Linked DNA regions of Homo sapiens: regions 1, 3 and 4 are each reported to be linked to region 2. Evidence: microRNA targets listed by miRTarBase, many of them from high-throughput screens and not tested one by one. Region 2 holds a microRNA gene; each other region holds the end of a gene's coding sequence.
The links. The annotated mature microRNA hsa-miR-548z reads CAAAAACCGCAAUUACUUUUGCA and lies in region 2 at 1,059-1,081, shown strand. An mRNA with a match to its seed (bases 2 to 7 or 8) in the 3' UTR can be bound and repressed. Matches are read on the target gene's strand: a 7mer-m8 pairs with bases 2 to 8, a 7mer-A1 pairs with bases 2 to 7 and ends in A, and an 8mer does both.

Region 1: the mRNA of CAMLG is a reported target of hsa-miR-548z. Seed matches in the 3' UTR shown: 7mer-A1 at 1,233-1,239.
Region 3: miRTarBase lists CBX3 as a target of hsa-miR-548z. Seed matches in the 3' UTR shown: 7mer-m8 at 2,742-2,748 and 7mer-A1 at 2,457-2,463.
Region 4: miRTarBase lists DEPDC1B as a target of hsa-miR-548z. Seed matches in the 3' UTR shown: 7mer-A1 at 2,435-2,441, 7mer-A1 at 2,090-2,096 and 7mer-A1 at 1,987-1,993.

Annotation. Positions count from the first base shown.
Region 1 is chr5:134,750,452-134,753,636 of GRCh38, forward strand. CAMLG (calcium modulating ligand) reads left to right here. Exons shown (of 4, transcript NM_001745.4): 4 at 308-1,706. The coding sequence ends at 499. Among named protein-coding and RNA genes, the nearest start is that of DDX46, 6.7 kb to the right of the region's middle.
Region 2 is chr12:64,620,426-64,623,610 of GRCh38, reverse strand. MIR548Z (microRNA 548z) reads left to right here and starts at 1,006; the gene lies at 1,006-1,102. All of the region lies in intron 1 of RASSF3 (Ras association domain family member 3), which reads right to left. MIR548C (microRNA 548c) reads right to left here and starts at 1,102; the gene lies at 1,006-1,102. RefSeq lists an enhancer at 2,021-2,180.
Region 3 is chr7:26,211,923-26,215,107 of GRCh38, reverse strand. It overlaps CBX3 (chromobox 3), which reads right to left. Exons shown (of 6, transcript NM_016587.4): 6 at 1,501-3,026. The coding sequence ends at 2,900. Among named protein-coding and RNA genes, the nearest start is that of CBX3, 12 kb to the right of the region's middle.
Region 4 is chr5:60,595,175-60,598,359 of GRCh38, forward strand. It overlaps DEPDC1B (DEP domain containing 1B), which reads right to left. Exons shown (of 11, transcript NM_018369.3): 11 at 1,738-2,740. The coding sequence ends at 2,579. Among named protein-coding and RNA genes, the nearest start is that of DEPDC1B, 100 kb to the right of the region's middle.

The sequences.
Region 1 (3,185 bases), not on the chromosome of region 2:
CGCTTGAACCCGGGAGGCAGAGGTTGCAGTGAGCCGAGATCGTGCCATTGCACTCCAACCTGGGCAACAGAGCGAGACTCCATCTCAAAAAAAAAAAAAGCAAGACTGATGTCTGCTATTGCCTAGCAGATTGATGAGTTACATATTATATGCTCAGTAAATGTTGGTATCTTACTGATTGTTTTGAAACATCATTAACAGTTTTTAAATCATTTCGGTTAAAAACAGCAGTACTGATCATGTTTGTATAGAGCTTAATGTAGCCTGCTGAAACTTTGAAGATTAATTTGAGTCTTTCTCTACACAGAGTGAAAAGAAGATAAAGACAACAGTACTAACAGCTGCACTTCTATTGTCGGGAATTCCTGCCGAAGTGATAAATCGATCAATGGATACCTATAGCAAAATGGGCGAAGTCTTCACAGATCTCTGTGTCTACTTTTTCACTTTTATCTTTTGTCATGAACTGCTTGATTATTGGGGCTCTGAAGTACCATGAAGCCTGTAGAACTGAGAAGGAGAAGCTTACAAAAAAAAAAAAATCCTCTTCTATATTGCAGTGTCTCTAAAGGAGGCAAATTGGTTTACACCTTCATGTAATTCTTTTACTTTAGGGGTTGTAAAGCTACTTTATTAGATATAGAATGGCAGATTCTCTGATTTAAAAGGGCTGAGTTTGTATTATTACTGATATGAAGAATAGAGTACCAATGTCATTAATTGATTTTTCTTGTTAATCAGAATTCCTATTCTGTACCTTTCCTCTAACTTCTCAGATTTGTAATTCTTCTTTTGGGAGCTGAGCTAGTGCTTTTAGGAGAACAGATAAATGTGGTCTCAGCCAGCCCTAGAGACTGCTTCTTGTGTTTGTGTCATTCTGTCCTGAGAAATGAAGTCATCTGAAAAATAAAATGAAAGAAACTGAATTGTCTAATGTTAACTCTGCACATTGTAACTTTTCTTGTTGAGTTAGTATCTTAATTTTTACTCCAGCACAAGTATTTAATCAAAGAAAAGATTCATACATGTGAAATTGGAAGGTATTTATAAAATTTTTATTGCTGTATACCAAACTCAGAATTGGAACTTTTTACATTTGAGTTTCACTTTTTAGAAGTATGTTTTAAGCAAGCAAAAACAAAATGGGATGTGAAGAATTGAGGCATGCAACCCAATAGCATAAATGTCCTTTTTCCCCCCAAATATGGTCTAGATGAGTTATTATAAACATTGTTTTTATTTTTTTGAGACAGAGTTTCGCTCTTGTTGCCCAGGCTAGAGTGCAATGGCGCCATCTCGGCTCACCGCAACCTCCACCTTCCTGGTTCAAGGGATTCTCCTGCCTCAGCCTCCCAAGTAGCTGGGATTACAGGCATGCACCACCACGCCCAGCTAATTTTTATATTCTTTAGTAAAGACAGGGTTTCTCCATGTTGGTCAGGCTGGTCTCGAACTTCTGACCTCAGGTGATCTGCCCACCTCGGCCTCCCAAAGTGCTGGGATTACAGGCGTGAGCCACTGCACCTGGCCTTATAAATATCCTTTTAACTAACTCAGTAACTGCCATATTTTGTTGGGTTGTCTTCTTAAAAGAATATAAGACTAAAGTGTTAATGTCACTTGGTGTTACATTTCCTTACAGATTTTTGTATAGTCTAATTTGGTTAATCCTTGTGACATTAAAAACACATACACTTTTTAAAAAATTACTCTTTAAGTCTTGATTTCTGTCATTTCATTTTGAACCAGGGTAATGAAGAATAATTTAAGTCTATTCTTCTGATTTGGGTGAAAGATTATAAGCACACATTTTTCCTGATTCCATAATGAATCTAGTATCTAAAGGGTTGTAAATCATCCTTAAAGTTGTCACTTCCTTAATCGCTGAGAAGATACTAGTGGTCTTCAATTGCACATTGCACATGTTTACTCTTTTGGTGCTTTTTTTTTTTTCCAAACAGTGTTTACCACTGTTGTCCAGGCTGGAGTGTAGTGGTAGCACAATCATGGCTCACTGGAGCCTTGATTGACCTCCTGGGCTCAAGCAATCCTCCTGTCTCAGCCTCCCAAGTAACTGGGACCATTAATGCCTGGCTAATTTTTTGATTTTTTGTAGAGACAGGATCTTACCATGTTACCCAGGCTGGTCTCAAACTGGGCTCAAGCAGTCCTCCTGCCTTGGCCTCCCAAAATGCTAGGATTACAGGTATGAGCCATTGTGCCTGGCCTACTTTTCTTTCTTAAAAAAAAAAAATCATTTAGCCAGCTGACACATGCAAAATTTTAGTAATTGTAGATCATTATCAAATTTATATTTTGAAGACAGTTATAAGATATCTGTATCTATTGGTGCCATTTTTTGTCTTTAACTGATAGGCATCTCCCTGATCATTTGCTTGATTTGTTGAATAATATCAAGTAGAAATGAAAGTTTTTTTTGTTTGTTTGTGTTGTTTTTTTTTTTTCTGAGACAGAGTTTCGTTCTTGTTGCCCAGGCTGGAGTGCAATGGCACAATCTCGGCTCACTGTAGCCTCTGCCTCTGGGGTTCAAGCAATTCTCCTGCCTCAGCCTCCCGAGTAGCTGAGTTTATAGGCATGCACTACCACGCCCAGCTAATTTTGTATTTTTAGTAGAGACGGGGTTTCTCCATGTTGGTCAGGCTGGTCTGGAACTCCAAAGCTCAGGTGATCCACCTGCCTCGGCCTCCCAAAGTGCTGGGATTACAGGTGTAAGCCACTGCGCCCGGCCTGTTTTGTTGTGTTTTGTTTGACAGTTTCACTCTGTTGCCCAGGCTGGAGTGCAGTGGCATGATGTACAACCTCTGCCTCTCAGGTTCAAGCAGTGCTCACGCCTCAGCCTCCTGAGTAGTGAGTAGCTGGGATTACAGGCATTGCCACCATGCCTGGCTAATTTTTGTATTTTTAGTAGAGATGGCGGTTTCACCATGTTGGCCAGGCAGGTCTCAAACTCCTGACCTCAAGTGATCTGCCTGTCTCAGCCTCCCAATTTGCTGAGATTAAAAGTGTGAGGCCGGGCGTGGTGGCTCACGCCTGTAATTCCAGCACTTTGGGAAGCCGAGGCGGGCAGATCATGAGGTCAGGAGATCGAGACCATCCTGGCTAACACGGTGAAACCCCGTCTCTACTAAAAATACAAAAAATTAGCCAGGCATGGTGGCAGGCAC
Region 2 (3,185 bases):
TCCACCTAAAGGAACACTGGCAAGAAAAGCAATCCACAAGCCTGTCTGAACAAACAGAAACAGACCTTAAATGGACAAACGTAATATTGTTTCTTTATACCATCTACATAATATTTACATTTTCCCATAGCTGGGAAATTACTCACTACAGTCAAGTACCCCTAAATTTACCTCTGGCATGTCATGAAACCTGCATCTGCTTAAGGCCTAAACGGATAAACGTGCTAGTTAAATTTCTCATCTCAGAGTTCCTCTGAAATTAAAGTCCAATAAAATCAACTGAATTTTAATTCCCTTGGAATGCCCTGTTAACTGTAAAACACTAAGAAATGCTAAAGTTAATTTTGGTACTGGTACTTTTCCTCCTACGTGATATATTTAACTATGTTGTTTTCTATTTTCATTTAAAAAAATTTTGCTCCTATGACTTTGCTGGCAAAATATCAAAAAAGATTCCTCGAAACAAGCATTTGTAGAAAATTTTCACGGTGGCCGGGCGCGGTGGCTCATGCTTATAATCTCAGCACTCAGGGAGGCCGAGGCAGGCGGATCACCTGAGGTCAGGGGTTCGAGACCAGCCTGACCAACATGGTGAAACCCCGTCTCTACTAAAAATACAAAAATTAGCTGGGCATGGTGGTATGCGCCTGTATTCCCAGCTACTGGGGAGGCTGAGACTGAAGAATCACTTGAACTCAGGAGATGGAGGTTGCAGTGAGCCAAGATCGTGCCACTGTACTACAGCCTGGGCAACAGAGCAAGACTCCATCTCAAAAAAAAAAAGAAAGAAAAAAGAAAATTTTCACAGTAAGCTTGTTTGAATTAAGAAATTGGGGATTAAGGAGGGCTCATAATCTATCAATCATAAAGTCAGAAGTAACTCTTCACATCTTTTTAAAAGATTCACTTGATAAAAAGATTCTGAAAGAAAAAATTTAAAGTAGGAGTTAATCAGAATAAAAGAGATTAAGCAACAATTTTCTACTTAGGCTTCAACAAGCCTGAAAGTATTAAGTTGGTGCAAAAGTAATTGAGATTTTTGCTACTGAAAGTAATGGCAAAAACCGCAATTACTTTTGCACCAACCTAATAGATGCCAATGCCGATTCCTTTCTCATCGCAATTTTTCAACAAAAGACAGTAAGCCTATAAGTAAACAGTATAAATTATCTTTGGTGGGTAAGGTTTCCAGCAGTTTGTCCTACCATCCTTTTTTCAATACCTAGTATACTTACAAAATAAGTTAGGACTGGCCAGGCACGGTGGCTCACACCTGTAATCCCAACACTTTGGGAGGCCAAGGCAGGCGGATAACGAGCTCAGGAGTTTGACACCAGCCTGACCAACATGGTGAAACCCTGACTCTACTAAAAATACAAAAAAAAAAAAAAAAATAGCTGGACATGGTGGTGCATGCCTGTAATCCCAACTACTCAGGAGGCTGAGGCAGGAAAATAGCTTGAATCTGGGAGGCAGAGATTGCAGTGAGCCAAGATCGCGCCACTGCACTCCAGCCTGGTGACAGAGCAAGACTGTCAAAAAGATAAAAATAAATAAGTTAGGTTCTTCTAAATTCTACCAGAGTGGTTGGAAAACAAGCCCTAAATTTATTGAAATTCAAAGATAAACAGGAACTTCTAGTCACCCTTTTTTTTAAAACACATGGTTAGTAGAAAACACATCACCCAACTCCCCACCTTCTGAATCCCACGGGTTTATTTATGGTGATGCTTTCTTAGCAATGCCTTTCCCATGTTGTAACTACAGGAGTAATAAGTATTTTTCTGAGTTTCAGTGATGTCAGCCTGAAACACATTCTGAAGTATTTCAAAATGCCTGGGCCGGGCACGGTGGCTCACGCCTATAATCCCAGCACTTTGGGAGGCCCAGGCGGGTAGATTACCGGAGATCAGGAGTTCGAGACCATCCAGCCTGATCAATCCTGTCTCTACTAAAAATACAAAAATTAGCCGCGCATAGTGGCGCATGCCCATAATCCCAGCTACTTGGGAGGATGAAGCAGGAGAATCACTTGAACCTGGGAGGCGGAGGTTGCAGTGAGCCAAGTTCGCACCATTGCTCTCCAGCCTGGGCAACATGACCGAAACTCCATCTTAAAAAAATGAAAGCCTGAATATGTAATATCCTTTTGGTACAAACAGTGTAAGTCAAAAAAAACCCTGAAGTTCAGCTGACCTCAAAAAAGCAGAACCATCTACCAAGCTAAAAATGCACAGACTCAAGCAGTGCTCTCTCAAGATTTTGCCTACCTAATAGACAAATGGGCAAAGGTCATGCATGGACAATTCTCACACAAGGGAGATTTACTCAGAAGTATTTAAAAAGTATTAAATTCACAGTTAATTAAAGGAATGTGCCAGGCGCAGTGCCTCACGTCTGTAATCTCAGCACTTTGGGAGGCCGAGGTGGGTGGACCACCTGAGGTCAGGAGTTTGAGACCAGCCTGGCCAACATGGTGAAACCCCATCTCTACTAAAAATACAAAAATTAGCAGGGCGTAGTGGCAGGCGCCTGTAATCCCAGCTACTTGGGAGGCTGAGGCAGGAGAATCTCTTGAACCTGGGAGGCGGAGGTTGCAGTAAGCCAAGATCGCGCCATTACACTCCAGCCTGGGTGACGAGTAAAACTCCACCTCAAAAAATAATAATTTAAAAAATAATAATAAAGGAATGTAAATTAAATAGCAATAAGGTGCCTTTAGTTATTGAAGTTTTTTTTCTCTATTTTAATGACTATATCCAATGGAAGTAAGGGTGTAATGAAACTTAAAAATAGACATAAATTGGCAATATATAACTAGAATCATAAAAAGTCACACCCTCATAATTAGTAAAATTCCATTTTTGTACAACTATCCTATAAAATTAATCCATAATGGAAAAGGTTTCATGCTCAAGGTATTTATTAGTGCTATTTACAGTAGCAAAAATTAGAAACCTCCACATTTTCCAATATTTGGGAATAACGCCAATTCAATAAAATACAATGTAGACAACAAAATGACAGCTGAAATCAAGCAGCAGTATTCCATAATCCTGGGTTTAAATAAGGATTCAAATTTGTCAGTATAGTATTCCTCAAAAAATTAAAAACAGAATTACCATATGATTCTATAGCAACTGTTACTTATGGGTATATATCGCAAAAAGTTTTAAGAGGGGTCT
Region 3 (3,185 bases), not on the chromosome of region 2:
GAGGAAACTCAGACACAGAGAGGTGAAGTACATTAATTTGTTCAGAATCAAATAGCAGATTCCAACCCAGGTAACCTCTCTGGAGTGGCTAGCAGCTATGCTAGAATAGAGTATATTTTAGTGTATTTATTAAGTAAGATGACCCAAGATAACAACTGGGTGAAATATAAATTGCAAATATATTTTTTGTTAAAAACTATTTTTTTTGAGTTTCACTCGTCGCCCAGGATGGAGTGCAATGGTGCAATCTTGTCTCACTGCAACCCCCGCTCCCTGGGTTCAAGCAATTCTCCTGCCTCAGCCTCCACAGCAGCTGAGATTACAGGAACACACCCCCATGCCTGGCTAATTTTTGTATTTTTAGTAGAGAGGGGGTTTTGTTATGTTGGCCAGGCTGGTCTTGAAATCCAGAGATATGGGTATCAATTGAACTTCGGGTTTGAAGCAAGGAAATTGATGAGGTGGCCTTACTTCTGTAGCATCTGAGTTGTTACAAGAAGCCTATTACATAAACATCAGAGGGTAGAAATGATAGAAAAAGGGTTTTCTCTTCAGCTAAAGATCTAAGCTCCAGGAATTCAAGAATTTGAATGAATGGTTTGGCTCAATCCTTCCATAATACACCGTGGTAGACAGGAGAGATGGAAAGAGGAAGAGAGGAAGGGCGAGAAAGATGATGCAAGATGCTCCACTGCTTGCTGATTCTGAAGATGGAAAGGGCCAGGAACCAAAGAATATACGTGGCCTTTTGAAATGGAAGAGAGAAGGAAAGATTCTGCCATCAAAGCCTCCAGAAGGAATTCCCCTGATAACCTGACTTCAGCTTGCTTAATTTTGGACTTCTGACCTACAGAACTATTTTCAGCCATAAATGGGTTAAATTTGTGGTAATTTGTTAAAGCACCAATAAGAAACTAATACAAACACTAGAGAATATAAAAAAACAATATTTTTCAAATTTTTTGAGAAACAGTCTGTCATCCAGGCTGGAGCACAGTGGTATTGACATAGAGCTCACTGTAACCTTAAACTCCTAGGCTTAAGGGACCTTCCCAAGTAGCAAGGACTACAGGTGCAAGCCACCACACCCAGCTAATTTTAAAATTTCTTGTAGAGGTGGGGGTCTCACTGTTGCCCGGGCTGATCTCAAACTTCTGGGATTCAAGTAATCTTCCTGCGTTGGCCTCCCCAAATTTTGGGATTACAGGTGTGTGCCACCATGCATGGCCAAAGGACAATATATTGTTTTCAGAAATGCCCTTAGTAAAATTGAATGTAGGGCCACCAACTACTAATATGAATAGAAGGTTCTCTATCATCTGTGAACCCACCGCTGAGAGCAGTGGTGGGTATATATATATATATATAAGGAGGTACTTAATAAACATCAGTTATTTACCTTTTTCTGTATGGATTTTGGAAATCAATTAAAATGTGTCTATCATCACACTGAGCCCTATCAGAATACTTTACATTCTTTAGAAGACAGTTACAACAAACCAGAATTTAAAACCTCATTTTAATGAGACAATTGACCCTAGGCATCACATGAAACTTTTATTTCCCAACTGTGGAAACATTCCTGTGGAAATACATATTCAAGTTTAAAACTCGTAAGCTCAAAAGATCTAGGATATGTACTGTAATGCCTTACTGGTATCATCTAACTTATAAACAAAGATAATCCAATGAGTGTGGGCATTTCTATTTCTACTGTAAAGGCATATCAAATAAAGAAAAAAGTCTAATAATTGCATAAAGGAATATAAAACTATTTATTAACCACTGTTCACCAGTATTTACAATAAAGTAAACAATATACAGTTGGATAACATTTTGATTACTACAAAGTTGTTCTTCCTGGCTTTTGCTGAACCAGTAAAGCAAACTCAAGATTGAGCCTCCATGTAATGAATTGGGGTAAAGAAAAAACATGCAGGTCAATAGGTTAGGTTACAAAAGGTTGTTCACACATTTATGACAGCAGGTCCTAAACTGCCAACACCTCTAACCATCTGATTAGGTTTCTATGAGCCAAGTCTTACATATTCCATTCATCATGACCTTTTAGTCAATGTAGCAACAGGGATTCCAACATTTTGCTAAGGAATGGCCCGCTAGGGAAACTTTTAAATGTTCATTTAACTTAGTTTTGTTTAGCTAGTTAAAACACACTAGCATTTGTCTAGTTTCCTCATCTGGATGAGGAAACCTGCTGTGATGGCAGTGATAAAATTTTTCCTTTTAGGAATTTTGCAAATAAACCACTGCAATTATAGACACTTTAAAATTATCCAATTTAAATTGTCCTATCTAGAATTACTTATTTCACTTGAAATGTATGGTTTCAGGAAAATTTTCAATTTAACTTGAAGGGATTATCTCTTATTTTGCTTGGAATAATGGCATCTCAGAAACATGGGTTTACCTGTGATTTTTTTGTTTGGGTGAATGCTTAAAAACAAAAAAAAATTTACATATGCATTTTATGGATACACACACACACACACACACACACACACACAAAAAACACGTAATAAATCTAGAATGGTCCTTAGGCTCATGAGAACACAAGTTTTGACTGAGTAATGACTATGGACATTTCCCCCAACATTTAGAAAAGCTGTTCTTTAATGAAGAGGAAATGATATACCATGGTATCAAATGTTCTTTTCTGATAAAGGAAGCAACTACAGAAAGCTTTTATTTATTTGTTCAAAGTAACCAGTGCTATGGATGCAAAAAACCCCCAACAACTCTTCCAACGCTACTTTCAAAACAAACATATCAAACTTGATTTTCATTAGGATGTAGTTATTTTGTCACACTAGTAAATCAAAATCTAAGACCCAATTTTTATATATATATATAAATATATATAAAAGAACAATGTGAACAATTATTGAGCTTCATCTTCTGGACAAGAATGCCAAGTTAGTCTCTCTTCATAAAAAGCAATTACAATTTGAGGACACTTCATATTTGCCTCTTTCGCCAGCACCAAGTCTGCCTCATCTGAATCTTTCCTGTTTTAAGAAAAAGAAAAATTCAGTTACAAGTCGAAGTTGTTCATGTCAACCGACAGCCATTCATTTAAGAAATAATAGTCCAAACAAAAGGTATTGAAGTGCTCCAGGAGAGTTATGTTACTTGTTGCTATGTTCTAATAAACTTCATTTTCAAAA
Region 4 (3,185 bases), not on the chromosome of region 2:
GGTGGGCCTCTGAAAGGGCAGCTCACAACATGACAGCTGGCTTTCCTCAGAGCAAGCCAGGGAGAGAATAAGAAGGAAGACAAGCAAGATGGAAGCCAGAGTTTTGGAATCTAATCTGAGAAGTGATACCCCATCACTGATGATATATTCTATTATTTAGAAATGTGTCATTTTAGCTCCACCCACACTCAAGGACAGGAAATTACACAAGGCATTAAATACCAGGAGGCAAGGATCACTGAGGACAATATAGATGCTGTCTACCATGGAACGGAAAAGCAAAAGCTGTTTTTTTCCTAATACGTAGACAATGCCAAAGAATCATACTAAATGTTTAGAATTAACAAGTCTAGCAAGGTTCACTGTAAACAAAACTCAGGAAAAATCAGTTTTATACCATACAGAAGCAACAAACACTATAAGGAAATTTACAACACCAGCATTTACAAAAGAATTAAACGTCAACATTGATCAGCTGAGTAACTGTTGAAACAGGAAATGGGTACTACAGTCTTTGAAAATTTTGATACTTTTTTTAAAGTATCAAATACTTGGGAACAAATCTAACAAAAGATTTGTAAATCTTCACAGAAAAAAGCAACTTTTTTTCTCATTTATTTCAAATAAAATGGAAAGGTAAACCATGGTCATGGACTAGAAGACCTAATATTGTAGACAGCAATTCTCTGCAAATTGATTTATACATATAATACAATCAAAATTAAAAAAAAAAACTCAACAGGGTGAGTGTGTGTCTCTGCATGTGTGTGTGTGTGTATGCAGGCTTGACAATCTGATACCAAAATTTGTACAAAGACGAAAAAGTCAAAAAAATGGAAAAAAATGTTCAGCCATATTAATAATCATGGAAATGCAAAATAAAACCATAATCAGACACTATTAATAACCACCACATTGACAACATTTCAAACTCTGACGATAGCAAGTTTCGGTGAGGATATTAAACAAAAGGAGTTCTCATACACTGTTAATGGGAGCGTTAATTGGGACAACCACTTTGGATAACTGCTATTATCTATTCATCAATTTCACACTTAATTGGTGCTTATGTTTTATGATCTCTCCATAAATATGTTATATTTTTTTAAAAAAGTAATCTTAAAAAAAAAAGGAAAGAAAACAACCACATATACTTCCAAAGACAAGCAACAGGAAAAGAGATTCTGAAAAATAAACTCTACCTCGGAGTGAAAATAGAGCAGAAAGAAGAATTATTCTTGGCTCTAAACAGAATGCCAAAGTCTGAGAATGAATCCTGAAACACTAAAAATCTCCCATTACATTATGTATTTGGAATGTAAGGTGGTACCCAAACCAATAGGAATACTTTGGTCCATTTTTAAAAGCAAAATCTGCATCAGATGTAGGAGGTATTTTGCTACAAGAGAACAGGAGCAAATCTTAAGTGCAAGGAAAAATCAGTCCAAGGAGTACTGTAAGCCAATTAGTGGGTGTTGCTCTCAGCTTTCTGGGTAATTGCGCTCAGAGGAAGACTTTCAGATGCTCCATAATCCAAGTGCACCACAATTTTACAAAAGGACAAAGCAATGCTAAAAAATTGGCAAAGTGCTCACCTAAAGACCAGTCAGTACAAAAGCCCAAATCTTACTTTTCATTTTCTCATAGAAATAAATGACTGATGAAGACCATTGGCAAAGGCATTTGAGGATGCTCTCTAACTGATCTAAATAAATGCCAAAAAAGAAACACGAGGTATGGCATTTTTAAAAAAAATAAGTTTATTTACATTTCACTTACTTTCAAAAGGATGAAAATATATTTATAAAGGAAGTAGTCTCATTTTATTTAACCCATTTGCATTTGACTTAGAATCAGAGGTCTAAGGGTACCCAAAGAATTTATCCAGTTCAACTTTCCATTTTTAGCTAAGACTGAAATTATACCATTGCAGGCAGATGAAAATCTACTCCACTTATAGGTAAACATCAACTAATATATATGTTATAAAAACACTAGCTTTAGTAAAATCTGTCATAACATCCAATAAATCTGCAATAAAAGACATAGCTATCACAATATAAGACATTAAAAAATTTATGTGCAGCAATAAAAACTGGAATTTATACAGGAGAAATGATAATTGGCTACTAAGTCAATAGCATCACAGTAACAGTACCCAGTGTCTTTCTTATTCAAGTATACACGCTATTTTTAAGACTTAAAATTAAGTCTTAAGGCTATAATAAAGATATCAGTAGCTAGGATGTATATACACAATTATTTAATAAACACCATGAAAAAGAAAGCACAGAGATAAAAATACCCTTAAATTCTGTAGCAATTACAAACATGTTAACATTATCACTATATATTTGACTCATAAATTTTAACCAATTTATACACTTTAAAACTAGCATTGAGTTTTATAAAAATACTAATGGCCAAACATTTTTAAAAACTAAGGCAATCTTTATCTATATTTCAGTAGTCTTTGTTTTATGCTTTTCTTTCTTCCACCACCAAAGTCTTTCTCCTAACCACCATTCACTCAAAACAACAACAGTGGTCTCTAGCACCTGTTGCTGTGGAAGTATTATTACATTCGAAAACTTCTAGTTCTTTGAAATGGTTGGAAAGGCTTCTTTAGTGCCCACATTAGCAGCTGTGGTTTCGGTTTGGGTTTTTCAGGAAACAGAAGTGCTGCACTTTCTGGTGTAGGAAATCGTTCTTGATAGACTTCAGGATAGGATTTCTGAAACTAAAAAAATGAATGGTCCAAGAAGAGTAAAAAAAGACACATAAAAGCCAATAAAATTTGGCAGCCAAATTTTAAGAGTTTCTGAGCCTGTATTTTCCTGTTTTTGTTTATTTTTGTTAAAACATTTCATTCCAATTTCTATAGAGCTAATCCATCTTTCCTTTGATCTAAGCTTCAAATAAGTTCCCCTTTTAATCATGTTTCTGAAAATTCCCCCCACTGCCAACTATAAATAGACCTCACTTTTTATATATTCACAAGTAACTCTGACTTCAAAATAACTTCTGTTCTACACAGTTAAATAAAATTTTGGCCCAATTACATTTCATCATTTCTCTGTTTCTCCAACTCAGCCCCACCAGCTTCTGCTCAAATGGAAGAGGGAATATTCTGGTGTATATTACTTTGTGAAAAGCTTAAAAGAGAGGCAGTATACTTTCTGTTG